Linked DNA regions of Homo sapiens. The protein of the gene in region 1 purifies or fractionates together with the protein of each later gene. This does not show direct contact. Each region holds a gene or a part of one and is shown in the gene's direction. Other genes may lie near its edges. The genes, in order: AIRE, CTSH, ACP3 and SMC3.

The links.
Region 2: the proteins of AIRE (region 1) and CTSH purify together in Homo sapiens (affinity purification with mass spectrometry; 2 studies listed by BioGRID and IntAct, with this or other methods). This does not show direct contact.
Region 3: the proteins of AIRE (region 1) and ACP3 purify together in Homo sapiens (affinity purification with mass spectrometry; 2 studies listed by BioGRID and IntAct, with this or other methods). This does not show direct contact.
Region 4: the proteins of AIRE (region 1) and SMC3 purify together in Homo sapiens (affinity purification with mass spectrometry, with the first as the bait; 2 studies listed by BioGRID). This does not show direct contact.

The regions. Positions count from the first base shown.
Region 1 is NC_000021.9:44,281,964-44,288,897, forward strand, and holds the start of AIRE (autoimmune regulator), read left to right. Parts: upstream 1-3,912; 5' UTR 3,913-4,043; coding exon 4,044-4,175; intron 4,176-4,593; coding exon 4,594-4,768; intron 4,769-5,014; coding exon 5,015-5,170; intron 5,171-5,553; coding exon 5,554-5,628; intron 5,629-6,381; coding exon 6,382-6,495; intron 6,496-6,934. UniProt on the Homo sapiens protein: Transcription factor playing an essential role to promote self-tolerance in the thymus by regulating the expression of a wide array of self-antigens that have the commonality of being tissue-restricted in their expression pattern in the periphery, called tissue restricted antigens (TRA).
Region 2 is NC_000015.10:78,921,043-78,928,066, reverse strand, and holds the end of CTSH (pro-cathepsin H isoform a preproprotein), read left to right. Parts: intron 1-285; coding exon 286-354; intron 355-2,626; coding exon 2,627-2,733; intron 2,734-4,948; coding exon 4,949-5,074; intron 5,075-5,861; coding exon 5,862-5,937; 3' UTR 5,938-7,009; downstream 7,010-7,024. UniProt on the Homo sapiens protein: Important for the overall degradation of proteins in lysosomes.
Region 3 is NC_000003.12:132,312,951-132,320,424, forward strand, and holds the start of ACP3 (prostatic acid phosphatase isoform PAP precursor), read left to right. Parts: upstream 1-4,456; 5' UTR 4,457-4,506; coding exon 4,507-4,626; intron 4,627-7,474. UniProt on the Homo sapiens protein: A non-specific tyrosine phosphatase that dephosphorylates a diverse number of substrates under acidic conditions (pH 4-6) including alkyl, aryl, and acyl orthophosphate monoesters and phosphorylated proteins.
Region 4 is NC_000010.11:110,584,693-110,591,716, forward strand, and holds part of SMC3 (structural maintenance of chromosomes protein 3), read left to right. Parts: intron 1-4,912; coding exon 4,913-5,016; intron 5,017-5,199; coding exon 5,200-5,299; intron 5,300-5,719; coding exon 5,720-5,880; intron 5,881-6,298; coding exon 6,299-6,440; intron 6,441-7,024. UniProt on the Homo sapiens protein: Central component of cohesin, a complex required for chromosome cohesion during the cell cycle. The cohesin complex may form a large proteinaceous ring within which sister chromatids can be trapped.

The DNA.
Region 1 (6,934 bases):
AACTTCTATACACATCACATGGGCCGCGTCCCCCCACTTTGCAGGCTGAGAACATCTGACGTGACCTGGGCACCTGAGGGGCACCCGGCACAGCAGGAGCATGGACCTGGAGAACCTCTGTTCTTCCGTGCATCAAGGTCCGAGTCGTGGTTCTGCCCCTTAGCAGCTGCGTGACTCTGGCCAAGCTCCTCCCGGCAACAGGCCTCAGTTTCCATATCTGTGGATGGCACTAATCACGATGATGACCTGAGGAGACCGTTCTGCTGATGGAGTGAGCAGAATCACAAAGCTCTCAGGGCCTAGCCCGGGGCATGGCAGGTCCGCAGGCGTCCAAGGGCACAGCACAGATGTGGGAGAAAGGGCTGCGGGGCCCTCCCGCTCCAGCCGAGGACACGGGGCTCAGGGATGGAGCCCAATACTGTCCCAGAGCTCTGCTGCCCAGGTGCCTCTTGGGGAAACTGAGGCTCAGTCCCACAAAGGCATCAGTCCCACTGAAGACAGGGCCGAGTCCCCAGCCCCTCACCCCCCTCCAGGGGTCTGTGCCACCTCCAGGGAGCCGTGGCGGCTCCATGTCACCTGCGGGCAAGGGGCTGGTGTGGAAAGCCCCACGGCATGGTGGAAAGTCCGAAATTCTACAGGGGCCTCTTTGTTAAACCTCCATGCAAGAGGCTGGGTGACGCCTGCCCACAGGGGTCAGGCCCCAGCCCAATGACACAGGTGACCCGCAAAGACTGCAGGTCTTTTTTAAAAAGTGAAGTGCAGACTTGGATCTCGCTTTGCAGTTTTTAATTCCCCTTTAACCATCTCTGGGCTAAGGCATCCATTGACTCACTTAACCATCTGGGGAGGGAAAAGCCACCGGGTTGCAGGGGGTGACTTTGGGGCAGGATGGCCTCTGAAGGGGTGGGTTGCCCCTCCACACCTGTGGGTGTTTCTCGTTAGGTAGAACGAGAGACTTGGAAAAGAGACACAGACAAAGTATAGAGAAAGAAATTGGGGGACCAGGGGACCGGCGCTCAGCATACGGAGGACCCCCGCTGGCCTCTGAGTTCCCTTAGTATTTATTGATCATTTTTGGGTGTTTCTCGGAGAGGGGGATGTGGCAGGATCATAGGATAATAGTGGAGAGAAGGTCAGCAGGTAAGCACGTGAACAAAGGTCTCTGCATCATAAACAAGGTAAAGAATTAAGTGCTGTGCTTTAGATATGTATACACATAAACATCTCAATGCCTTAAGGAGCAGTATTGCTGCCTGCTTGTCCCACCTCCAGCCCTAAGGCAGTTTCCCCCTATCTCAGTAGATGGAATATACAATCGGGTTTTATACCGAGACATTCCATTGCCCAGGGACGGGCAGGAGACAGATGCCTTCCTCTTGTCTCAACTGCAACGAGGCGTTCCTTCCACTTTTACTAATCCTCCTCAGCACAGACCCTTTACGGTGTCGGGCTGGGGGACGGTCAGGTCTTTCCCTTCCCAGGAGGCCATATCTCAGGCTATCACATGGGGAGAAACCTTGGACAATACCTGGCTTTCCTAGGCAGGGGTCCCTGCGGCCTTCCGCAGTGTTTTGTGTCCCTGGGTACTTAAGATTAGGGAGTGGTGATGACTCTTAACGAGCATGCTGCCTTCAAGCATTTGTTTAATAAAGCACACCCTGCACAGCCCTTAATCCATTTAACCCTGAGTTGACACAGCACATGTCTCAGGGAGCACAGGGTTGGGGGTAGGGTTACAGATTAAAATGGAGTCTCTTATGTCTACTTTCTATGCAGACACATTAACAATCTGATCTCTCTTTCTTTTCCCCACAGCCTCAAAGGAGAGGAAAGCCAAGTTGCTGGGAGCAACGGTTACTGGTCATCCCAAAGCTGTGTGCGCTGGTTCCCTGGCACCCCAGGGGCTTTTATGCATGAACTGTGCAGCCAGTGGGCCCAAGGGTTGCCATTGAACTTGATGTTAGTGAGCTCTCCCTTCGTGAGACCCCTGCCCATGGATGAGCAAGGAGAATGGGGGTGTTTCAGGAGCAGACAGGGATCCTGTGCAAAGCTGGGCTTCTGTGCAACTTTCGCTTGCAGTTATTTAAATATTTTTGCTGTAAATACAGAACTGCAGGGGAGAGGGCAGGAAACCCAGCGAGCAGCAGCCCGGCCTGGCTGGGGACAGGATGTGTCTGTTGGAGCGGGGACCGGCAAGGCAGGCATGCAGGCAGGGGGCTTCCCTCTCGGGGTCTTCGGAAGGCGCAGTGCAGGGAGTGAGAGACGCCCAGGCCTGGGCAGCGAGAGGGCCCTGCTCCCCGCTCAAGGCTCCCAGGACATTCCACACAGGAGCCAGCCTGTTCCAACCCTGCACTGCCTGATACTCCACAGCCACCACTGAGATGGACCCCCTCCCCCTCAGCTCCCCATGACGTCCCCAGCACCTGACCCCAGGCTGACCACCTCGGCCACCACCTCTGGCCCCACCTTCCTCCCCAGGTTTGTTCCCAAACACCCCTAGAGTCTTTTCCGGAGCAATCTCAGACGTGCAGAACGCTCAGGGGGACCCTGGGCCTGAAGGCGGTAGGAGAAACCGAGACCGACCCCTGGTCTAGAGGAGAGGTGTCTGCCGCTCTCCATCCTGGACTCTGGCTGCCCAAAAGCAAACGGCACGCCTGCCCACGTGGGAATCTTGGTGGCGTCTCTCACTGCATCAGTTAGCCCCCAGCCCAGTGCTGCCTGGATTCAGGCTTCCTGGTACCTTCGTCCACCCTTCAGCCCTAATCCATGCTGGCCAGGTCATCTCGTTCTCTGGCTCAGTGGGAACACTCGTGCCCAGAGACCTCTCGTGGTTCTCTGCAGCCTGCACACAGGGCCTGCTTCCCTGGCTTGACCGCACAGACAAGGGGACTGTTACCAAGGCCTCCCACTGAGGCCACCCCCCCTCCAGGCCATGCCTGCGGGGCCACCACAGCCTCAGCATCATTGCAGGCCCCAGGCCTCTGCACCTGGTCTTGTTTTACTGGGGGCACTGTCCCCACTCACGTCCACCTGGGACCCTCGGCTCCTGTCCACTGCAGCTCCCCTCCCGGACACCTTCCCAGATGCCCCCGGAAGCTCCTGTCCAGGCCACAGCATCCCTCAGCCTCTGTCACTGGTCCTAGGAAGACCCTTTGGGAGCTCTCACTCAGGGCCACACTCAGGACCCCCGTTGTGGGGCTGGCCGCCTTCCTTCTAAAGCACCTGGAGGAAGGAAGGAGGGGGTCAATGCGAGCCTCAATCCCCAGGCGAGTGTGCCCCTTTTAAAGATGAGGGAACCGAGGCTCAGAGAAGGAAAGGACTTGCCTGGCGTCACACAGCTAGCCTAAGATGGTGAGGTCAGGAGCTCCCTGGCAACACCCAGGCTGCCGTACCGTCTCCTGCATCAGACTGAGCCTCCATCGGGCTCCTCCCACAGCCCCAGGCGGGCCCCTGAGTAGGGGCTCTCAGCTTGTGTGGAGGTCCCCCAGGAACACCACCCCGATCCAGCCTCCATGGAGGCTCTTGCCGGCCACTGGGAGGGGCCGGTGCACCCTGGGCAGCCCCTGCCAGGGCCCTGAGACCCGAGCCTCCCCGCCGAGGGCACCTGTCTCGGCTTTGCCCCATTCGAGCAGGGCCCTCGCCGAGGCAGGACAGGGCCACATTCGGAAGTGAGAGTTCTCTGAGTCCCGCACAGAGCGAGTCTCTGTCCCCAGCCCCCAAGGCAGCTGCCCTGGTGGGTGAGTCAGGCCAGGCCCGGAGACTTCCCGAGAGCGAGGGAGGGACAGCAGCGCCTCCATCACAGGGAAGTGTCCCTGCGGGAGGCCCTGGCCCTGATTGGGCGCCGGGGCGGAGCGGCCTTTGCTCTTTGCGTGGTCGCGGGGGTATAACAGCGGCGCGCGTGGCTCGCAGACCGGGGAGACGGGCGGGCGCACAGCCGGCGCGGAGGCCCCACAGCCCCGCCGGGACCCGAGGCCAAGCGAGGGGCTGCCAGTGTCCCGGGACCCACCGCGTCCGCCCCAGCCCCGGGTCCCCGCGCCCACCCCATGGCGACGGACGCGGCGCTACGCCGGCTTCTGAGGCTGCACCGCACGGAGATCGCGGTGGCCGTGGACAGCGCCTTCCCACTGCTGCACGCGCTGGCTGACCACGACGTGGTCCCCGAGGACAAGTTTCAGGTGGGCTCCCCGCCCGCCCCCCGCTGCCCCCAGGCCCTGTGAGCCAGGGATAGTCCCCGGGGAAGTTCCAGGAGGACCCCGCCCCTCCAGATCCCCAAGCCCCTCCAGCCTTCCCCAACTCCCTCCCCACAAGGAGCCAGGGGCGTCCCTGATGACAAGTTAGAAGTTGGTCCCCTTCCCCCAGCCGTCCCCACACCTCACCCCCAAGCCAAGGGAATGGCCTCCAGGTTCCCCCAGCCCCACCCTCAACACCCCTACACCACCACCTGACTCCACCACAAGCCGAGGAGATGGGCGTGGAGCTGTCCAGGTCGCCAGCGCCTCTGCCTGGGAGCTCCACCCTCTAGTCATGATGGAGATGGGCAGGCCGCAGGGTGTGGGGGACCATGGCAGGGACCCTCATGCCACCCCACTGCAGGAGACGCTTCATCTGAAGGAAAAGGAGGGCTGCCCCCAGGCCTTCCACGCCCTCCTGTCCTGGCTGCTGACCCAGGACTCCACAGCCATCCTGGACTTCTGGAGGGTGCTGTTCAAGGACTACAACCTGGAGCGCTATGGCCGGCTGCAGCCCATCCTGGACAGCTTCCCCAAAGGTGGGTCCTGGTGGACTCAGCCATGCTGGGGGCCTGGGGCAGCTGCTGTCACCTGCTCAGCCCAGCTGGACTGGAACCGGAGTGGTGTTTGAGGAGCCCGTGGGTGATGTTCCAGGACCGTCTTGGATCCTAAGAGGCAAAGGGGCCAGGCCTCACCTGTCTGGCCAAGGTGTCCAGTTCTGGGGCCCACCCTACCCCTGGAGAAAACCCTGAGGTTGGGACCCTGCTCCTGCCCCTGAGCTGCAGATGTGGACCTCAGCCAGCCCCGGAAGGGGAGGAAGCCCCCGGCCGTCCCCAAGGCTTTGGTACCGCCACCCAGACTCCCCACCAAGAGGAAGGCCTCAGAAGAGGCTCGAGCTGCCGCGCCAGCAGCCCTGACTCCAAGGGGCACCGCCAGCCCAGGTACCCTCCCTGCAGGGGAAGCCAGCCAGGGTCTCCAGTCTTCCCGGGCTTCCCCGGGAGCCCACGCCCCCTCCCCACCCGGGCTCCCACCCACTGGGTGTGGGGCCAGCCTGCCTGGGGCTGTGGGGGTCTCCTCTGGGTACTAGACCCACACACTGGACCAGCCTCTCAGCTCCCTCCTGCCTGAAGGCTGAGCTCCCCGGAGCTGGTGAAGTAGGCGGGCGGGTCTCATTTCCCTTTTACTGATGAGAAACCAGAGCCCGGCAAAGGGACTACCCAGCACTGGACCGCCCCCTCCACGCCCTCCCACCGCGGGCCCCTGCCCACCGGCACTCACCCCCACTGAGAGGGGAGGCCAGGCTGCCCCCAGCTCCCCCATTCAGGCTCTCAACTGAAGGCCAAGCCCCCCAAGAAGCCGGAGAGCAGCGCAGAGCAGCAGCGCCTTCCACTCGGGAACGGTGAGCGGGGCCCAGTGGGAGCGCCTCCCTTCTCCCTGGCCAGGGGCAAGGGGTCAGGGGTCAGAGCAGGGCCTGCCCTCTGAGACCCTGTCCTAGGGGCTGGGGACGTGCTGGCCTGGTGTGTCATTCCAAGGGCCTAAGCTGCACCACCAGACCCAGGAAGGGGACACCTTGGGTCTAAGCATGATCTTGCCAGTCGCCCCTGCCCCCACTGCACCCTGGTTCTGGGACCCCCTTCTCAGGCACCTTCTCTGCCCGTCCACTCCCTATCCTTCAGGACCAGCCTAGACATAGCTTCCTCCAGAAAATCATCCCTGGCCCCCAGCTGCATGCAGGCTGAACCCTTCCTGTCCCCTTCTCCTTCCTTCCCAGGGCACTGGACTCCAGAGACCCCCTATCTCCCTGAGGGCAGAGCCTAGGAACTCTGTGTCCCTCCCGGCACAATACAGGGCCCATGTCATGGGGGGGTGGGTCTGGTCATTGGTCATGCCTTCCTATCCATTGTGCCAGCTCTGCTGACACTGCCACCCCCCAGCACACGCACACTTGGGTGCACACACGAACACACACATTCTCATGTCTCTGCACTTACCTGTGGGCTGTCTGCACATGGCAGGGCTGGGTCCCCTCCTTGGCCTGCCCTGGCTGGAAGGAAAGGGCTCTGCAGCCCAGTGCTGCCTGCTTCTGGCATAGAGTATGTGCTTGGGAACAGTCTTCCCCACGGGTGACCCCAATGGGTGTTCCCTTTCCCAGGGATTCAGACCATGTCAGCTTCAGTCCAGAGAGCTGTGGCCATGTCCTCCGGGGACGTCCCGGGAGCCCGAGGGGCCGTGGAGGGGATCCTCATCCAGCAGGTGTTTGAGTCAGGTAGACGCTGTGGCGGGGAGATGGGGCTGATGGGGAGACCCAGGCTCCAAGATGGAAGGAGGACCACGCCCCTTTGCATCCTGGTGGTCCCACAGCAGACCGGACTGTTGCTCAGGTAGCCAGAGTTTCTGCCTGTGGTTCTGCTGACTTTGGAGGAGGAGGGTGAGCACTGAAGTCTCCCTGTCGGGGGACCTTCTGCAAGGCCAGCGGTCCAGGCCCACATCCCCACCCGGGATGTACAGCACTCCCCAGTCACCTCCATCCATGTGCATGGGCCCTCCTGGGCCATGGGGTTGCATCCTTAGAAAGTTCTGCCTGTGCTGCTGAGACCCTCCAGGGTATCGGCATTCTTCAACCAGGACAGCCTGTAGCATAGCGTCCTTGCCCCCCATACCCTGGCCAGCCTGCAGCATCCTCGCCCGCCATTCCCTGGCCAGCC
Region 2 (7,024 bases), on another chromosome or scaffold:
ACTCGGCCTCCACTTCTCAGTGAGTTTCCTCAGGCCGGGTGAGGCCCCTCCTCAGGCTCCCACCACACACCATGTGTGCCCACCTCTGCCAAAGCCAGCACAGGACCATCTGCTACCAGACCCTAAGCTCCTTGAGGACAAGGATGCTTTAATTCTCTCTGAAATTATCCCATCCCCCAGGCCCTGGCACATCTTGTTTTGTTTAGTAAATGTTATTGAACTGCGTGGGGAGGCTGAGACTTCGGGTCCATAACCTGTATTTCATGCCCTTTGCATCCTCAACAGGATGGTTATTGCAAGTTCCAACCTGGAAAGGCCATCGGCTTTGTCAAGGATGTAGCCAACATCACAATCGTGAGTGCCGATCCCCCTCTGGGATGGGGAATGTGTCCTGATGAGGAGGCCTCTCTCATGCTGTCGGATAGCCAGTGGGCCCAGCAAGGCAGCCCTTCTGGCAGCACATCCCTTTGACGAGTTCATATTATCCCTGGGTCTCAGTCGCTGTGATGGTGGCGAGGCAGGAGATGGGAGGGAGAGCGCAAACTGGCAGGCAGGCCCTCTGGTTCTGAACTCCAGATCCACACATGCCTTCATTCTTTTGGTTCTGTTTTCTTGCTTGTAAAATGCAAGCAATTGTCCGCATCCTGCAGAAGAGGGTATGAGCACGTGCTTGACACAGCGTGTGTGAAACTGAGGAGGGTGAGTGTGTGTCACTCAGGATGAGCCAGGTTCTGTTGCAATAACAACCGTGCCCAATCTGCATGGCTGACAACAGTCAAAGGGTGTGTGGCACTCCTGCGCCCATGCACAGCTTAGGGAGGGTGGTGTGTGCTCCGTGTCATTGGCCTCACGCCAGGACTAGAGGGAAAGAAGGTGGTAAATGATGCCCTAGCTCTAAAGCCAAAACAAGCCGCCCAGTCACAGTTGACCTCAAGTGAATAGGGAAGTGTGGTCTTACCCTGCTTCTCCCAGAGAGAACTGGAACGTGAATGAACGCCTTCGTGACTGCAGTGTGCATGCATGCAAGTGTGGGAGGGTGTGTGAGGAGTGGAGGAATATCGCTTAGGTTGTGTGTGCGCCCACGAATGTATGTACAGTTCACAAACGTGATGTCTGTGTAATGACAGCGGCTGCCATTTAGTTGAAGCATGTGCCAAGCTCTCAGCAATAACATCTTAACTTGATGGAGTACTTCTAGGTGCTGTACCAACCCTCAATACGCACTATCCCCTCTAGACCCGAACTGGCCCTAGGAGATGAGTATCCTTATTACCTCATTTGACAGGTGAGGAAACGGGGGCTCCAAGTGGTTAAGTAATGTGCCCAAGGCCACAGAGCTAGGAAATAGATGCTGGATTTGAACTAAGAATGTGTCATTCCAGAACCAGGGCTCATTGCCTTGACAACATACAGCGCAAATCCTGTACTCAGGATGTCACCCTCTTCAGAATGTTGCTGCTGTCACTCAAGCTGGCTGCTCTGGGCCATGATATCCCAAGGACAGGTGAATTTGGGCCTCAAAGGTATCCCTTTGCATGGTCCCCAGGAGAGCCTCATTGGTGACACCTGCAGGGCCCTGACGACCAGGCCAGAACTAGCATTCAGCCCTCTTGGGCAGGCCCATGGGGTGGAAATGGTGCCACCTGCAGAAGTCATCGCCCCTGTGCTGGGCTGGCCTCTGTGCCCTCCATGTCTCAGATATGCCCTGACCTGTTGGGCTCACAAGGCCTTGTCCACATACCAGGAAGGAGGGCACTCCCTTGCCAGGCACCTGTTTGCTTTTCACAGCTGGGTCTCTGTCCACCCCTCTAGGGAGGCAGGACTGAGGGAGGCTGGGCGCCCCGTCCCTCCTGCACTTGCTTTCCTTCAGTAGGGCCCTGGCCTCAGCACAGGTAACTTCCCCCCTCATTTCAGCTCCCAGAGGTCTCTTGGTTAGTGCACTTGAACCCAGCCACCCCCAACCCAGAAGCTCCAAAAAGTGCCAATGCCTGGGACCCACCCTGCAGATACTGTTGTAGTTGGTCTGAGGCACAGCCTGGACTTGGGGTTTTTTTAAGGTTCTGCATGGGGTTCTACCTGCTGCTGTCACCTGGTCTCTGCAGCTCTGTTCCAAAGCTGCAGCCTCCAGGAAGCCACCCTGACTTCCCCCCACCTACCTTCCCCCTTGGAGGGGACAGGTTCTACTCAGAAGTCACACAGCCCTCGGATGGGTCTTCTCGTTTCCACCGCCATCTGGGACCTACCCGTCCATGGTTTATAACCCCTGTGTTCTAGCAGCAAAGCTTTGTAGACTCTGGGTTTATGGGTGTAGGGGTGAGAGCTGCTGGCCCAGGAGAGGACCTCAGGGAATGGATGTGAATGACTGAATGAGTAGGTCCACGCTGTACCCCGTGGTCCCTATCTCAGAGGGTGCAGGGTTTCCTAGGAGCAGAGTTGGGGAGAGGAACGAGAGATGGCCAGACAGACCCAGCCAGAGACAGGAAGGGAGAGAGGCCGCAGGGGAGCTGCTTCTGGCCATCCATGCTGCTCTGGGCCTCTAGCCCCTAGCTTGAGGCAAAAGGCTGTACTGTGAAAGGAGTGGGGAGGTGACAGGCCATGTGTTTCTGTCTCGGTCCTGTTTCCACAGTATGACGAGGAAGCGATGGTGGAGGCTGTGGCCCTCTACAACCCTGTGAGCTTTGCCTTTGAGGTGACTCAGGACTTCATGATGTATAGAACCGGCATCTACTCCAGGTGAGTCAGGGTCCCAGGAGCCAGGAGGGACAGTGGGGAGGGGCTTGGTGGGCCTCCTCACACCCCACTCGTGGGACTTGGGCTCGTGGCCCAGACTCCTGTGTGTCAGACCCTTCATGACACCTGCCAGGTGCTGGGCGTTTTGCACATCCCTCAGTTAATCCTCACACAGCCCCAAGGGCCAGGAGCCATGGCCTCTTCTCACAGCAAAGGAGAGGTGGTCAGAAGGGATACGACAGACACAGGCCACCTGGCTAGTGAGAGCTAGGGCCAAAATTTGAGAGCTTTGTGCTCCTTAACAGAAGAGTTGCCTCCAGTTTAAAAAAAACCCATGTTCAGGCCAGGCGTGGTGGCTCATGCCTGTACTCCCAGCACTTTGGGAGGCCGAGGCAGGTGGATCACTTGAGGCCAGGAGTTCAAGACCAGCCTGGCCAACATGGCGAAACCCCATCTCTACTAAAAATACAAAAAAAAAAAAAAAGCCAGCGTGGTGGTGCATGCCTATAATCCCAGCTACTCGGGAGGCTGAGACACAAGAATGGCTTGAACCTAGGAGGTGGAAGTAGCACTAAGCCAAGATCGTGCCACTGCACTCCAACCTTGGTGACAGAGCAAAGCTCTGTCTCAGAAAAAAAAAAAAATACCCATGTTTAAAGATTTGAAGACGTAAAATAGGGAGAAGAGTAGCTGCCCTCACACACTAGGATCCTGTGCTGGAGGAGTCACCCCAGGCTTCTTCAGAAAAACCAAGCTTTAGCCTCTTTACTATGGGGTTTCTCTCACCCACACCTTTTCGCCTGCCTGGTTTGCAGCCTCATTTCCCTCCCTTCATCAGTTGCTGCCCGTTAACGTCACTCACTAATGTCACTCACGTCTGTGCTCTCCTCTCCCTCCCTGAGGCTCTGCCCTGGTCACCATTGTCCTTGGACCCCCTAACCCCCCACACACTGTTCCAGCTTCCACTGGGAGCTGTCTGCCTTCTGAAACACTCCTCTTGCCAACGCCAACCTTTGAACACACCAGTGTCCCTGCTTTCCCAGGGTCCTACCCTGAGGGGGACCCTCATGATCTGGTCCTCCCTCTTTTTCCACACTCATCTGCCATCAAACCCGTCCCCGCCGTTCCACCCTGCAGCCCCCACCCCAGCCACGCAGAAGGGTTCGCAGTTCCATGGGCGTTCCCCGCCTCCACAGGGAGCCTTCCCTGACCCACCCTGCCCACCCTCCCCCCCCCCCCCGCTGGGTTGGATCCCCCCCACCTCCTGGGGGCTCTGTCGCCCTCCCACTGTCAGAGCCCTCAGGCCACTGTAGAGAAGCAGCCTCTTTGCCAACCTGCTCCCTGCCAAACAGGGCTTCCAAGGGACAGTTATGCATGCTGCCTGGATCCCGGCACCTGGCCCTGGCGCGAGCCTATGGCCCACTTACACATCAGCTGAATTCACACCTGACCACTGCAGTTTGTTCTCTTGAATTTCTTGGAATTTCCTTATGGAGGCTAGTTCACTTTTGTAAACAGAAAAAGTTGTATTTTTGCCATAGGTATAAAGTAATATTTAATAAATGCAGTGGCAACAAAGCAAAGCTGTGTTAAAGTCTGCCAGACACTGTTGCCTACAGAAGGTGCAGCAGGAAGGTGGCTCTCTCCTTGCCAGGAAAGAGGGAGTAGAAAGTGTCAGGGGTGAGACACGGGCCAGCACCATATGGAGATTCTCCTGACAGAAGCAGAAGAACCAAAAGAACTGAAAGGGCCGGGTGCGGTGGCTCACACCTGCAATCCCAGCACTTTGGGAGGCCGAGGTGGGTGGATCACCTGAGGTCAGGAGCTCGAGACCAACCTAGCCAACATGATGAAACCCTGTCTCTACCCAAAATACAAAAATTAGCTGGGTGTGGTGGTGCACGCCTGTAATCAGGCTACTCGGGAGTCTGAGGCAGGAGAATCGTTTGAACCCTGGAGGTGAAGGTTGCAGTGAGCAGAGATTGCACCATTGCACTCCAGCCTGGGCAACAGAGTGAGACTCCGTCTCAAAAGAAAAAAAGAACTGAAAGGAGTTCTCTCACGGAGACTAAATGTGATTACATCACCACCTTACATGCCTCCCTGGTCCGCTGTGGGGAACATTGCTCTAAAGCGCTCAAAGAGGCGTTGTTGGATGGGACTGTCATTGCTTTTATCCTTCCCATATGATCACCTCTTTTTGAATTTTGTTTTCCAGTACTTCCTGCCATAAAACTCCAGATAAAGTAAACCATGCAGTACTGGCTGTTGGGTATGGAGAAAAAAATGGGATCCCTTACTGGATCGTGAAAAACTCTTGGGGTCCCCAGTGGGGAATGAACGGGTAAGCAGCTCCCAGGTCCCACTTCTGGGAGGGGGATGTTGCTCAGGCCTGGAGGCCCTGGGGGCATCACTTCCACCTCAGAGTTACGGCTTCCACAGACGAGCTGGTCAGCCAAGCCCTAGGCCAGGCCAGGGGGAAAGGGAGCATGAGAATGTAGCCTCCACATTTCCAAGCCCCCATTTGCAGCCCTCACAGGGCCCCAGGTCTTTAGGACGCTGCAGGGAGAGCAGGAGGCCAGCTGGCTCAGAAGGACTGCTAGGAAAACAGCTCAGAACTTGGAACTCTGCTGGCACGAAATCAGTGTCTGGGAGGGTCCGTCTTTGAGAAATCAAAGCAACAAATGTACCCCTGATCACTGACAGCCCCTCCTTCCGGGAGAAAAGGCTGGCATGGGGCGGCCTGGGTGTATATGCTGCTGTGCCTTTGTCCTGTCCTCCCAGATTCCATGTCCTTGTCTGAAAAGGAGAGCTTTCCTGTTCCCTCGGGCTCCTGGTGATAAAATAGCTGTGTGAGGGCCCGGCCAGGGCTAAGAGGGGGCCCTCGGTAAATTTTCGGGAGAAGTGGGATATGGATCATTCATTTGGCAGCTAAGGAGAGGGAAGAATGAATTCTTCACAAAGTCAGGTCCGTGATTTGCCGGTGATCAAATAAGCCGAATGCTACTGTTTTATGAATAAATTTAGAGGGTCTCACCCCTGAAGTCAGCTCTTGGTGAGCAGCAAAACATTCTAGAAAGGCCTGTGGTGGGGAGACCGCCGGCCGGGCCTCAGCTCCTCTTTCTGCCCAGGTACTTCCTCATCGAGCGCGGAAAGAACATGTGTGGCCTGGCTGCCTGCGCCTCCTACCCCATCCCTCTGGTGTGAGCCGTGGCAGCCGCAGCGCAGACTGGCGGAGAAGGAGAGGAACGGGCAGCCTGGGCCTGGGTGGAAATCCTGCCCTGGAGGAAGTTGTGGGGAGATCCACTGGGACCCCCAACATTCTGCCCTCACCTCTGTGCCCAGCCTGGAAACCTACAGACAAGGAGGAGTTCCACCATGAGCTCACCCGTGTCTATGACGCAAAGATCACCAGCCATGTGCCTTAGTGTCCTTCTTAACAGACTCAAACCACATGGACCACGAATATTCTTTCTGTCCAGAAGGGCTACTTTCCACATATAGAGCTCCAGGGACTGTCTTTTCTGTATTCGCTGTTCAATAAACATTGAGTGAGCACCTCCCCAGATGGAGCATGCTGGTCCTGGGCCATGACTCAAACCAGGTCTGTCCTCGCCACTCAGTCTCCCAGGAGGGAGGCATCAGGGGGTGTCCAGGCTCTGGCTGGGAGGATGGTGGGGGTGCTGGCGGTATTATCCACCAGATGGGGTATCCAGGATGAAGAGCAGGCTTAATTTGAGATCTTGACTATTTGTCCCAAACCTGAGTGGAGAGGTGGGGAGGAAGGAGAAAAACGGGCCAAGCTGCGGCAGAGGCAGGATTCAAACCCACAATGTCAGCCCAGAAGCCTGTACTTCTCTGTGTGGCCTCCCCAGTCTCAGCTGCCTACTCCTACTCAGACTCTGCCCCCCACCTCCACATGAGACTGCCCACCCCTTCCTCACCAACCCCTTATTTATTTCAAACGTGCCCAGATGCTCCTGTCGTTTCCACACCATCCCTTCCCTTATCTTGCCTTTTGAGAAATCTTGATCTCTGTTTAGAGGGCGGCCATGAAGTTGCTGCTGCTTCCTGAAGCCTCCGGGCTCTGGGATGTCTGTAGAACAAGCTGGAGTCCACCAGCTCTTTGTCCTATGGCTCACAGACTTTCTTAATGATAAAAGCTGTCATCTTATTTGGGCTTCCTGAAAAGCTAAAGGCTTGAGAATATTTGAAAAATATATATGTTCATGATAAGGCTTATTTAGATAATGCAAATATAGTTTAATTTATTAGAAAATTCTAGTAACATAAG
Region 3 (7,474 bases), on another chromosome or scaffold:
AAAAATAAACAGAAATAAAAGTTTTAACACTTTCTTTACTTTTTAAAGTGTTAGACCATTGCATGAATCCCCTAGGTACACACACCTTAGTTGATGACATTCTTATGATACAGTCTTTGGTTTTATGGGGGATGTTTGTCTAAATACTAAACAATAAAATAGTTATTTTATGCCGAGGGCAAAAAGGCCCTCCACAAAATGATGGTTTGAGAAGAGGAGAACATTTATTCTAAAGCCATCTTATTAAATTTTGCCTCAAAGCAATTCACATTGTAACAGGGCTCTGATGCAGTCATTTGCATTTATATTGACAGTTGGTCAATCAGTATTATTGAGTACCCAATAGTTCATAAGGCCCTGAGAGTCAAATAATACAATTATGAAGGCCATAAGAAGCCAGACAGGTTAAACACAGTCTTCCTTGTGATGCTGGTGAACAGCCATATACTTACTGATGGATCTCACCTCCCAACTCAGACTCTTATGGTCAGAGGCATATTTAGTGCTTTCATAGGCTGTGATCTACTAAGGATCACAATTTTTTTCCTATAAGTGTTCATCATCATAGATTCTGTGTTACACTGCCCAAGGATTCATTGCTCCTAGCTCTTGGAAATTTGTTTGACATCACTCAGCTAGCAACCCCTTTGGGAATTATTTTGGCAGAAGAGAGTCACCTTTGCCTTATCCATGGTCATACTCCCTACCAGGGGCAGACTACGTCCAATGACTGGCTAATAAAAAAGGCCTGGCTCCTCACCTCAATTCAAGACAACCCTGAAAGGCCCTCCTATCTTCAGAACTTGTAACAGGGTCAGCTGACATCTTCAACAATATTGCATTACAAATCAACTTCTCCCTCTGCCCAACCTTGGTTATTTCTCTACCCACCACTGGAGTTAATCCTGAGTGCACTCCTTAATAAACTTCCTACATGCAAATATCTATCTGGGAGTCTGATTTTCAAAAATCCTAACCTGCTCCACTTATGGAACTTTCTAACTGTTCATTAGAACAGTTCATTTGAGGTTGAGCACTTGACATATAGAGAAAGAAGTACAACAAGAGAACACAAGTGATTCAGTCAGTAAGTCCTACTAATCATGGAAAATTATTGACACCCTAAACTCTTACATAAAGACTTCCCAGTGTTTTTTCAAATCTCACTTTTGATGTTACTATGATATGATTTGGCAGTGTCCCCACAAAAATCTCATCTTGAATTGTAACTCCCATAATCCCCACATGTCATGAAAGGTACCTGGTGGGAAGTAATTGAATCGTGGAGGAGGGCTTTTCCCATGCTATTCTTGTGACAGTGATTAAGTCTCATGAAATCTGATGGTTTTATAAAGGGCAGTTTCCCTGCACACACTCTCTTGCCTGCTGCCATGTAAGATGTGCCTTTGCTTCTCCTTCACCTTCCATCATGATTGTGAGGCCTCCCCAGCCATGTGGAACTTTGAGTCCATTAAATTTATTTTTCTTTATAAATTACCCAGTCTTAGGTATTTCTTCAAAGCAGTATGAACGTGGACTAATACATACTATATCCATATATTTATCCCAGATGACCCTTATGTCTTTGCAAAGACCTTATTGAGTTCAAAGTTCAAGGTGCCACAGAACATTCTAAAACAGGTTTCATCTGAGTTGAGGATCTTTTACACTCCATTTCATGGTGTTCAGGTTTTTCAAGACTCTACATTTATGACTTTGAATACTTCTTCTCCCCTTATAACTGAATGATCAAAGTGGAAGTGAGGATGATGATTGAGATAGAAGTATAAACCATTTAATTCAACTTGGATTAAGTTTGAGTTGAGATGTATTCAATTCAAGCAGGCTTTTTCTGGTTTTCAAAGAAAACTTTGTTGTTGTTGCCCTTCTCACTTGAAGAGCTAAAAGGACCCCACAGGCGGTACCACAGAAAAAATTAGGGTCTAGGTCAGAAAGAGGGTTTATCCAACCAGTGCAACATGGTATAGGTAGATTATAAAATCAGTCTTCATTATCAGGAAGGTCTAAGGCTATTGCTGAAATAGTTCCAAGCACCAGTCCAAGGGTGAGACAAGGAAGGAGATAGAACAAGGACCCAGGCAGATAGCTGAGAAAATAAGGCATTCAATAGAAGCAGACATCTGGCACAATTTAAGAAATGTGGTTCAGAAATTTGCCTGTGAATGGTACATAGGTGCTGGAGCTTCCTTTCTCAGATTGCCTGGTGCACACAGCAGGGATTAATGTATCAACTTCATGTATGCCCTGGACTGGAAAACCTCCCAATTTTTATTTCCTTTTTCTTGCACCCATTTCCTCAAAATCTTACTCATTAAAATTGACAGTGTAGACTGGCAGGTCGAGAATGTGATGGCAAAGAGAAAGTTGCAAGTTCCCTTGAATGGTTAATCCTAATCACACATGCATTTATTATTTGCACATTTTTTTTTTTTTTTGGAGGGGGGACAGAGTCTCACTCTATTGCCCAGGCTAGAGTGCAGTGGTGTGATCTCAGCTCACTGCAACCTCAGCCTCCCGGATTCAAGTGATTCTCCTGCCCCAGCCTCCCAGGTAGCTGGGATTACAGGCTCCCACCACCACACCTGGCTAATTTTTGTATTTTTAGTAGATATGGGGTTTCACCACATTGACCAGGCTGGTCTCGAACTCCTGATCTCAAGTGATCTGCCCACCTCAGCCTCCCAAAGTGGTGGGATTACAGGCGTGAGCCACCATGCCCAGCCTATTTGCGCATGTTTCCTACTGCCGGAAGAAGGAACAGTTCTCCCATATACCACATTCCAGGGCATCCTATGATCACATAAGAACACAATCCTCCTGCCACAGGTAAGCGCAATGTACCAGGAAACAGGTTGCGGGTAAACCATTGTTCTCCCTCTGCCATTATGATAGAAATATCATGACAGGCAGCTCTGCCCCCAAATCTTGCAAAATCTCAATGTGCACCTCAAGTTTGTATTGTTTTAGCCTATGATGGAACTGACAGGTTGGGGAAAATGGAAAGCAAAGTTCCATCAGTCTGGATCGCCTTTTGTAGTGTCCCCAGTGAGATCATAGCTGGAGAGGCAAGGATGTAACTCACTCAAAATTTAAGGCTTATGGCCAAAGTTGATGACTAATAATATAGAATTGTAGGTTTGGGCTTTTTGCTTTCTTAAAAAACTCTGTCAGGTTTGGAAAGGGACCTCCAATCTAATTTTGAGATACCACAGGTAATGTCCAATTGTCTTAAGGTGTGACTAAAATTTTTCTTTTGTTTGTTTTTTGTTGTTGTTTGTTTGTTTTGCTGTGTTTTGAGATGGAGTCTTGCTCTGTCACTCAGGCTGGAGTGCAGTGGCACAATCTCGGCTCACTGCAACCTCCACCTCCTGGGTTCAAGTGACTCTCCTGCCTCGCCTCCCAGGTAGCTGGGACTATAGGCATGTGCCACCACGCCAGGCTAATTTTTTTTTTTTGTATTTTTAGTAGAGATGGGGTTTCACCATGCTGGCCAGGCTGGTCTTAACTCCTGACCTCAAGTGATCTGCCCACCTCGGCCTCCCAAAGTGCTGGGATTACAGACATGAGCCACCACGCCCAGCCTAAAATTTTTCAAAATAAACTTGCTGTTACTTTTCTTCTTTAATTTAAAAATACCTCTATAGGCTACATGAGAGTTTTTGAAAAAGTAGCCATGTTTGGCATGGAAATAGGCCCCAAATATGTCAACACCTGTATTTCCTTCCAGATTTCAGTCCTATAACTTTGGACTCCCAACAGATTAAGAATCACTGGTCTAAGGTTTCTAAAGTCAGGGTAGATCCCTTTCCCAAGTGACAGCCACAAATCCAACGCTGTATCATACCCTATCTAAAGAAAAGATAAAAGTAAACTGGCTTGGCACAGTGGCTCATGCCTGTAATCTCAGCACTTTGGGAGGCCAAGGCAGGCGGATCATGCGGTTAGGAGTTGGAGACCAGCCTAACCAACATGGTGAAACCCCGTCTCTACTAAAAATACAAAAATTCGCCGGGTGTGGTGGTGCACGCCTGTAATCCCAGCTACTCAGGAAGACTGAAGCAGGAGAATTGCTTGAACCTGGGAGGCGGAGTTTGCAGTGAGCTGAGATTGTGCCACTGTGCTCCAGCCTGGATGACAGAGCAAGACTCTGTCTCAAAAAAAAAAAAACAAAAAACAAAGATAAAAGTAAACTGAAAACAAGGATAGAAATGTCTGCTAACATGCTCTGTGACCTTGATCAACAGCTTTCCCCGCTCTTGGCCTTGGTGTCCTAACTTAAATGGGGAAACTGTGATCTCTCTCAGCTCAAAATTTACATGACATTATTTACATACCAAACCTGCCCTACGCTTCCTGGAAACTTTACTACTTATGAGTGTGGCTCCTCCTTCCCTTTCAATCCCTTAATTAAATAGCTTCCCCTCTACAGGCTTTTGAAGTGGTAGCAGTTCCTCCTAACTCCTGCCAGAAACAGCTCTCCTCAACATGAGAGCTGCACCCCTCCTCCTGGCCAGGGCAGCAAGCCTTAGCCTTGGCTTCTTGTTTCTGCTTTTTTTCTGGCTAGACCGAAGTGTACTAGCCAAGGAGTTGAAGTTTGTGACTTTGGTAAGTAGACTTTTCTCATTGCTTTTTCCTTAAAACTGTGTTCCCAGCAAAGTCTGATAAGGCAAGCGTCAGGTTTCATCTTATCCTTGGATTGTTTCCCAGAGACCAGGCTCTGTTCAAACTCAGAAAGTGAATAATCAAGTTTTGCAAGTTCCTCTTAATGAAGACCTAACGTGTCCTAACAAAAATATTTTTTGGTCGCTGTTTTTTTAGGGGTTGCTTTTTATTTGCTTTTGCTGATGTTATTTATTTACTTACTTTACAACTGCCTTGAATTCAGATTCCTTTTGACAGCCACACCAGTCCAGAAGAAACCACAGCTGGCGCTGTTTATGTACCAAGAGCTGGCTTCATTCAATTTAATCATTATTTGTTTGCAAGCCAAAAAACAGTCATTTTCTGAATTAAGTAGTCCTTTCACCTTTGTTTATCAGGAAATTAGAACAACTATTTGTAAACAACCTTGAAGCATAAAAGTGAATCTAAATTTGGAATTTTAGGATGATTTTCTGATATATAGATTTAGTTGACGATTAAAATCATTGGCACATGTGACCAGTTATGAAAAAAGGTGGGGGGTGGCTGATGCATAATATCAAGAAAAGAAAATATACTGTTGACATTGTTTGAAAATAGATGGAAAGAGGGTTTGCAAAGTGAAGGGGATTCATCATGTTACCTAAGAGTCTGATTTTCTGTTTCTGTATCTTTTTTTCCTTCTGTTTCACTCTTTCTCTGCCTCTAAGCCTCTAAGCTGCTTCTTGCCTTTCCTCTCTCGTTTTCTTTCTCTTCCCTACATTTTTTTATTTGAGATAGTGAAAGTGGGCTGATAAGTAGGTAAATTTTCTTTCTGTCAAGAATACTCAAAAATTATTTTTATAATTTGAAGGAAAGTCACTGTTTCCTTAAAAATTAAAGTTCAGGCTTTTTTTTTTTTCAGCATGGGATATTCAAAGCTCTTTACTTTCTACAGAAAATATGATACCCATGTGCTTATTTGAATCATTATTCTTATAGTCCAGTAAATCCTTACTAGGTCATGAGTCAACAATGACAGAAAACCCAGTGAAACAAACTATCAATTTATTTACAAATGATTCACCAGCTGTCAGACTTCTGTGCAGAAAAAAAATATATAATACTGTGTGCCTTCTTTAGGGAAACCCATGTGAGCTAGGCTTGTACTTCTATCAGTAGTTTTCTTGCTAACATGTGCATGAGGCAAGTTTAGGGACTGTAGAAATTGTACTGCATCTGCCGTGCTTGTAATACTGTAAACCTGTGACAAGCTGGTTGAGTGGCAGTCCTCTGAGAAATCCAAGTTACTCCAAGCTCACTGTACATGATGTATTCCCTCCTCCATGTTTTACCCAAGTTAGCCCAGGCTAACTTCCTTTGACTACCAAATTGTTGTGGGTTTCCTATATTCAGGGACTGCAAGTTAATTCTTTCCTGAGGAAAGCCAAAATACAAAGCTAGCTCTCTTAGAACTAAAAAAATTAACAAATATTGCACAAAGCCAGTGTTAACTATTTTTTCCTACCATGATTTCCTTCCATTAATGGTAGATGAAGGGCCATTTAATACATCTTTCTTGGCCCTTATAAAACAACGTCCATCTAAGTACTTAAGCCAATAAACATCAGTTTCTTATTTTTATTGACTAAAGAGAATATTTGACTATAAGTGGTTAATTTATACAAATGAGATAACTCTTAGAAAATTATTAGGAGAACCAGAATTGTTTTAAAAGATGCCCATAACTAAAGTGGTAATATTAATGATAATAACCAATAGTCAATTGAGTGCTTACTGCAAGTACTTACTGCAATTGAGTGCTTACAAGGCACTGTTCTGAGTGTTCAATATGAATTGTATCACATAAGCCTGTCAACAATCCTCTAAAATAAGGTCGTTAAATAAAATATGGGATGACCATTTGAATTTGAACTTCAGATAAATAGCAAATAATTTTTTAGTCCCATGCAATATTTGGGCATCCTGTATGTTTATTTGCCAAATCTGGCAACCATTCTATAAAGTTTTGTAAAACTTATTATTCCTATTTTATAGATGAAGAAATTGAGGCACAAAAAGGTTAAGCATCTTGCCCATGGTCACACAGATGGAATGGTGGAGACAGAATTTGAACCCAGGCTCTCTGACCCCGGATGCCTTTCCCTTTATCACTAGACATGGTCTTTTCCTGCTGTGTGTATATAACCCAGCACATGGAGCTAGTCTGAGATCCCCCTGTAAGGTTTGCTGGATTAGCTTGACTCTGAATCAGCAGGTGGTTCCCTTGCTTTTCCTCTGTGATCCGAGAAAAATAAATCCTCCCCAATTCTGAAAAGCTGTTCTCAGCAGAAAGAGGAGGAAACTGTCCTTGGTTCTTGTTCTCGGACTAACTGAAGTGCCTGTGACCCATGAAATGCTAGTTTGACAAGTTGTTAACAGGTGTACATGGGGAAAAAATCAGTTTCAATAGTCAAGTTAGCTTTGGGAATAGAACTGGGTTAAACTGTGTTTAAAAGGTCTCTTTAATGCAGTAATCCTAAGTCTTTAACATGCTAATACGCACTGTGGCTTTCAAGGAAAGGATCTAGTGTTTTCCAAACTCTGTTTTCAAAATTTTGATTACAGCATTCACCTCCCTCTTTTTTTCCCCAATGTCCTGTAGAAAACACTGAGAGAACTGACATTTTTAACTTTATATGGAAAGAATCGTAAATATGGTGAATCTGGATGTCCTCATCAACCAGCTTCAAAGACTATCACCCATGCAATCTTGTTTCATCTGCATAGCCACTCATTTCCCACACACACCCACTTGAGTTTTTTAAGTTAT
Region 4 (7,024 bases), on another chromosome or scaffold:
ACAACTCACTGCAGCCTCCACCTTCCAGGCTCAGCGATCCTCCATCCTTAGCCTCCTAACTGGGACCACAGGCATGTATCACCAGGCCCAGCAAAATTTTTATTTATTTTTTTGTAGAGACGAGGTCTTGCCATGTAGCCTAGGCTGGTCTCGAAATCTTGGGCTTAAGCAATCCTCCGACCTTGGCCTCCCAAAGTGGTGGGATTAGAGGCATGAGCCACTGTGCCCAGCTTAAAATATGTTTTTATGAATTGGTAGCATGTGTCTTACATACCCTTAATTTAACAAGATGTCACAACATATGTCTAAAATAGCTTGTTGGTAACTTTTTTTTTTTGAGATGGAGTTTGGCTCTTGTTGCCCAGGCTAGAGTGCAATGGCGCAATTTCGGCTCACTGCAACCTCAGCCTCCTGAGTAGCTGGGATTACAGGCATGCACCACCAAGCCCAGCTAATTTTGTATTTTTAGTAGAGATGGGGTTTCTCCATGTTGGTCAGGCTGCTCTCAAACTCCCAACCTCAGGTGATCTGCCTGCCTCAGCCTCCCAAAGTGCTGGGGTTACAGGCGTGAGCCACCGTGCCCAGCTGATAGTAACAATTTTTTTTTTTTTTTTTTAATACGAGTCTCACTGTGTCACCCAGTCTGGAGTGCAGTGGCATGATCTCAGCTCACTGCAACCTCCACCTCCTGAGTTCAAGCAATTCTCTGCCTCAGCCTCCCGAGTGGCTGGGATTACAGGTGCCTGCCACCACGCCCGGCTAATTTTTTTGTATTTTTAGTAGAGGTGGGGTTTCACCATCTTGGCCAGGCTGGTCTTGAACTCCTGACCTCGAGATCCACCCACCTCAGCCTTCCTAAGTGCTGGGATTGCAGGCGTGAGCCACCATGCCCGGTGTAATTTTTTTTTTTTAAAACTTCATTTTTTGGTATTCCAGCATCTTATGTTACATTTAGTTGTCATGTTTCTTTTATCTGCTTTAATCTGGACCAGTTCTTCAGTTTTTTCTTGACTTTTGGGACTTGACATTTTAAATTATTTGTTATAAAGTACATATATTAATATTTATGTACTTATTAATTGTATATTATATATAATTATTTGTCCCTAATCTCTTTTTTTTGGAGATGGAGTGTTGCTCTGTCGCCCAGGCTGGAGTGCAGTGGCGCGATCTCGGCTCACTGCACCCTCCGCTTCCCGGGTTCAAGCAATTCTCCTGCGTCAGCCTCCCAAGTAGCTGGGACCACAGGCACATGCCACCACGCCTGGCTAATTTTTTGTATTTTTAGTAGAATGGCGTTTCACTGTGTTAGCCAGGATGGTCTTGATCTCTTGACCTTGTGACCTGCCTGCCTCGGCCTCCCAAAGTGCTGGGATTATAGGTGTGAGCCACCATGCCTGGCCCCTAATCTGTTATAGTGATTTGCCCACTTTAAGTTTTTGGTGACTCACCTTTAAATGTATCCAAAACCTCAGTGAAGTTTTAAAGAAAGAGCTGTTTACTTTGTACTCATATTCTCACTTTACATAAAGAAAAAAATATATAGTGGGGAGAAAACACAACAGCCTCTGTAGGCATAAACAATAGGTAGGTAAAATTGCGAGGAGTGTAGCCTGCTGTTTTTGGAAGTCCAGTCGTGCTGTGGGTTTTAGTTGTGATACTTTGTGGAAGGAGTGGAAAAGTTGGGTTAATCCAGGCAGTTCTTTATATGGTTAGTATAGTCTGAACTGATAGTTAACACCTCCTTTCTTGAAATAAAATGAGTTTTCTCTTGAGTTTATGAAACCAACCTCAGCAGATGCCCTTTTTGAAGGTGCCTCCAGTGAGAGAATTTATTCATTTTTTGTCATGCTTGAAGTTCATTATTTTCCAGTATTCCAGCCACACTTTTGGTTATCAGAATGACCACTTGTAAAGATGAAGCCTTTCCTTTGGACAGAGATGATTTTATGGCGCTGATTTTGTTATGTAAATAGCCTTTTTTTTGAGACAGCCCCACTCTGTTGCCAGGCTGGAGTGCAATGGTGCGATCTTGGCTCACTGCAACTTCTGCCTCCTGGGTTCAAGCGATTCTCCTACCTCAGCCTCCCATGTAGCTGAGATTACAGGCGCCCGCCACTGCTCCCGGCTAATTTTTGTATTTTAGTAGAGACAGGGTTTCACCATGTTGGTCAGGCTGTTCTCGAACTCCTGACCTCAGGTGATCCGCCCACCTGAGCCTCCCAAAGTGCTGGGATTACAGGCGTGAGCCACCGCGCCCGGTGTAAATAGGCTTTTGCCTCTTGGTATAATCCTAAATTAATTTTTCCACAGTGTATTTTTAAAACCTGCAGTATGAAAAATAAAATGTCTTTTTGGTGGTTTTATTATGCTTTATTACAGTTCATTTATGTGATACATATCCTACATACTTATCAAACTTAAGTTTTTAGACTTTTCTAACTTATGTCAGTGGTATCTTGGCCGTAGCAACTGCTGTGGAGAAGGGGAAGCTCTTAGATAGTTTCAGTGCAAACTAAATGTTTTCTCTTTTCCAGGTTGTAATGCATTTAATAAAGTCTACAAAACATTATATTTTGAATTTAATATAGGTAGCTTACTTTATTACTGGTTCTGAGTAGCATCATGGTGTCAGAAAGGGAACCATTAGTGTTCAGATACACCTGGAAAAAAACAAAGTATGTAGGACTTAAGAAATACTGTAAGCTGCCAGGCGCAGTGGCTTACGCCTGTAATCCCAGCACTTTGGGAGGCCGAGGTGGACGGATCACGAGGTCAGGAGATCGAGACCATCCATCCTGGCTAACACGGTGAAACCACATCTCTACTAAAAAATATAAAAAATTAGCTGGGCGTGGTGGCGGGCGCCTGTAGTGCCAGCTACTCGGGGGGCTGAGGCAGGAGAATGGCGTGAACCTGGGAGGCAGAGCTTGCAGTGAGCCAAGATTGCACCACTGCACTCCAGCCTGGACGACAGAGCGAGACTCCGTCTCAAAGAAAAAAAAAAAAAAAAAGAAATATTGTAAGCTGTAATGCTAGTTAATAACACAACAGTCTGAATTGTTTAGGACTGTAAAAGTTGAAACATTAATTTAGGAAAACTGACTCTTCAAGGTTTATACTCTTCTTTTAGCATGTGTTCAGATAGCCTGGGGATGAATTAAGTAATTGCTGCAGAAAAGTTAAATTTTACCTAGGGAATTTGTTAACTCTTTTATGGTTTCAGATACCACTGAGTCCCAAATTCCTTATGTGTAGAATTAAAGGGTTTAATTATCCAAGATGTTAAAAGTCATTCTGATTATCCAAGATTTTTTGAGACAGAGTCTCGCTGTGTCACCAGGTTGGAGTGCAGTGACACAATCTCAGCTCACTGCAACCTCCCCATCCTGGGTTCAAGTGATTCTCCTGCCTCAGCCTCCCCCAGTAGCTGGGACTACAGGCGTGTGCCATCACGCCTGGCTAATTTTTGTATTTTCAGTAGAGACGGGGTTTCACGATGTTGCCCAGGATGGTCTCCATCTCTTGACTTCATGAGCTGCCCACCTCGGCCTCCCAAAGTGCTGGGATTACAGGTGTGAGCCACCGCGCCCGGCCAATCTAAGATTTTGTGACTCAGTAGTAACATTGACTTTTTGTCAGTGGAATTAGTAGTAACATTGACTTTTGTCCATTAAAATTTTGGACAAAAAGTCAGTGTTACTACTGAGGATGAATAATTGTCAGTACTCTGTGGGAATATTTACAATTACTTTGATATCTGACAATAATTAGTTATAATACAAACAGATGAATGTAATTACTTTATGAAGCAGTTTGAAGCCCTTCCCCTGAAGGATGATCTTCAGCTTTATTTTGCTTGTCTTATTGCTTCCCAGTAAGGCAAGGATTTTTGTTTGCTTTGGTCTTTTATGATTCCCCAGCTCTTCTAAGAATGCCTGGTACATACTGGGGTTTTGGTAACTTCACTAAGTGGATGAAGTGTCAGCTTCCTTAAACTCTAGCCAGTGAGGCTATTGGATTTTTTCAGCTCAGTATAGTCTACTAAATTAATGAATACAGTTCATTAATTCTCCTTAAGGAAACAGCATCTTACGTTAGGTTCTTAGAGATTTGTTATAGGTTCTGCCAAGATTTTTAACTCATTTTTCTTGAATGTAAAATAGTTGAAAATAGTTTTTGTGTTCTGTTGTGTGTGTGTGTAGAGGGGGCAGTATGAAAGTATATAATGGACTATTATGAGAACTTAGAATTTTTTTTCTAAAATTCTGGAGTGTATATTATAGAAATAGGAAGATTTAGATCACTAATGAACAAATTAACTTTTAGCAACATGTTTTATAGTATTTAATGGTTTGTGTTTTCTGGTGTGGTATGCTCTTTTGCCTAAAGACAACTTTTAAAAACTGAAATGGGGCCGGGCGCAGTGTCTCACGCCTGTAATCTCAGCACTTTGGGAGGCCGAGACGGGCGGATCATGAGGTCAGGAGATCGAGACCATCCTGGCTAACACGGTGAAACTCCGTCTCTACTAAAAATACAAAAAACAAAAAAAACAAACTGAAATTGGATTTTTCAACAGCATCATTGAGGTATAATTCACATACAGTAAATTGTACATATTTAGTGTACATCATTTTTCCTAGTCAGGAAAGTGGCAAAAATAAAGTATATAATTTGATGAGTTTTGACATACGTATACATCTGTAAAACACCACACAGTTAAGACACCACACACCACAGTTAAGACAATAAACACGTTTATTACCCAAAAGCGTTTTCCATACCCCTTTGTAATTCCTCCCTCACCTTTTGTCCGCCTCCCCCATCCATCTGCAACCACTGATCTGCTTTCTATCAGTGTAGATTAGTTTCATGAAATTGAATTTTAAATTTATTTTTATTTCCATAGAAACTGGACCAGGATCTTAATGAAGTCAAAGCTCGAGTAGAAGAACTGGACAGAAAATATTACGAAGTAAAAAATAAGAAAGATGAACTACAAAGTGAAAGAAAGTTAGTATAGACTAAAATGTGCATTAATGTTTTCAGTAATGTTCGTTACTAGCTGTTATGTGGTCTTTAAGTTACAAGTTAACCGGTCAGGCTTGTTTTCTGTATTTTGATTCTAAACTGTATACTGTTAATGCATCCTCATATGTGTTTAAAATTAAAGACAGTCTACTTTTTATTTATTAGCTACTTGTGGAGAGAAGAGAATGCAGAACAGCAAGCACTTGCTGCTAAAAGAGAAGATCTTGAAAAGAAGCAACAACTTCTTAGAGCAGCAACAGGAAAGGTGGGCAGGTTCTTTTCATCACCTCTGTTTACACTGAGTCATTGAGTTAATCGTTATGTAATAATTTTTTACCTTTCAAGGTGTAGGTCATGGGTTCCAAGTGATAAATAGGAGTCCAAATTATCTTCTAAATATGAAATGATAGAGATTAAATAGTTTTATTACTACACATACTATTAATAGCACTTTTGATGTTCAGATAAAGAGCCCATTTTTAACACTACTGTTATGGAACAGAGCCTATCATATAAGGTGTTACATGTAGTTGGCATATTGTGAGGAGGTGATGTGTTTGTTGGAGAGGATGTTTAGTTTAATCACTGGTATATTTTTAAAATGTATGGTGTTGTGGGCTCATTCCTTACCAGGAGTGCCATTGATGATATTATTTTAATATTTTTCATTTCTGACAACTTACAGGCCATTTTAAATGGAATAGACAGCATAAACAAAGTGCTAGACCACTTCCGTCGAAAAGGAATAAACCAGCATGTTCAAAATGGCTATCATGGTATTGTAATGAATAACTTTGAATGTGAACCAGCTTTCTACACATGCGTGGAAGTCACTGCTGGAAACAGGTTAAAGCTTTTGCTTGATATTTAGCATTTTTAGAAGAGGGAATAAGAATAGCTTAAACAACTTTTGTAGTTTTTGTACAACATATCTTCCATTATCTTTTTATATCTCGGTTCCTTAACTTTCTAATTAAAGAAGTAGATGCTAAGTATTTGTTCCTAATTATAGAAGCTAGAACTTTCCTCTTTTGGGAGTTTCTCCCTCCCCGCCATTGGAATTTTTAAAGTAGTCTTATTTTCCAAAATTATTTGGATTATATAGGAAAAAACTGTTTGATGCTTAAGTGTTTATAACATTTTAAAAGTGCACACCTTTAGTCCCAGCTATGCAGGAGGCTGAGGTGGGAGGATTGATAAGTTTGGGCAACATAGGGAGACCCTGAGTACCAATAAAGATTTGTCTTACTCTGTTTATATTTAGGTTATTTTATCACATTGTTGATTCAGATGAAGTCAGCACGAAGATTTTAATGGAGTTTAATAAAATGAATCTTCCTGGAGAGGTTACTTTTCTGCCTCTTAACAAGTTAGATGTCAGGGATACAGCCTATCCTGAAACCAATGTGAGTCATTGTGTGATAAGGTGTATTTCTCTTTTATAATGTTATTTTTTATCACATAATCTAACACATGCTAGTGCCCAGGCACTATACACTGGGATTCAGTGGTGTATGAGATAAAAATATCTGTCTTCCCATGGACCTTAGTGCTGAGTGGGTTTTGGGGAGGGAGACAGAAGTCACAGCTATGATTGGTGTGGTGATGCACGCCTGTAATCCCAGCTACTTGGGAGGCTGAAGTGGGAGGATCATTTAAAAAGAAGAGAAAAAAGCTAAGATATGAAACAAATCATTGCAAATGTGCAGTGTTAAAAGCGTAAGTACAGGATACTTTGAGAGCATATCTGGGAGTGACATAATTAAGGTTAGGGAGTTGGAGAAAGATTCCCAAGGAACTGTCATGTATAGTTTAAAAGTGTCTTGACGTACTTAGGATTAAATGAAAAAAATGGCTAGTAAGGTGATAGACTTCGGAAGCATAACATTGCTTTTGTTGGTAACAAAAGTGCACTTTAGGTGGATTAAAAATATTCTTCAGACACCATTCTTAGAACAGTGTAATTGCTTTGAGGTACTTGACTTCAGAA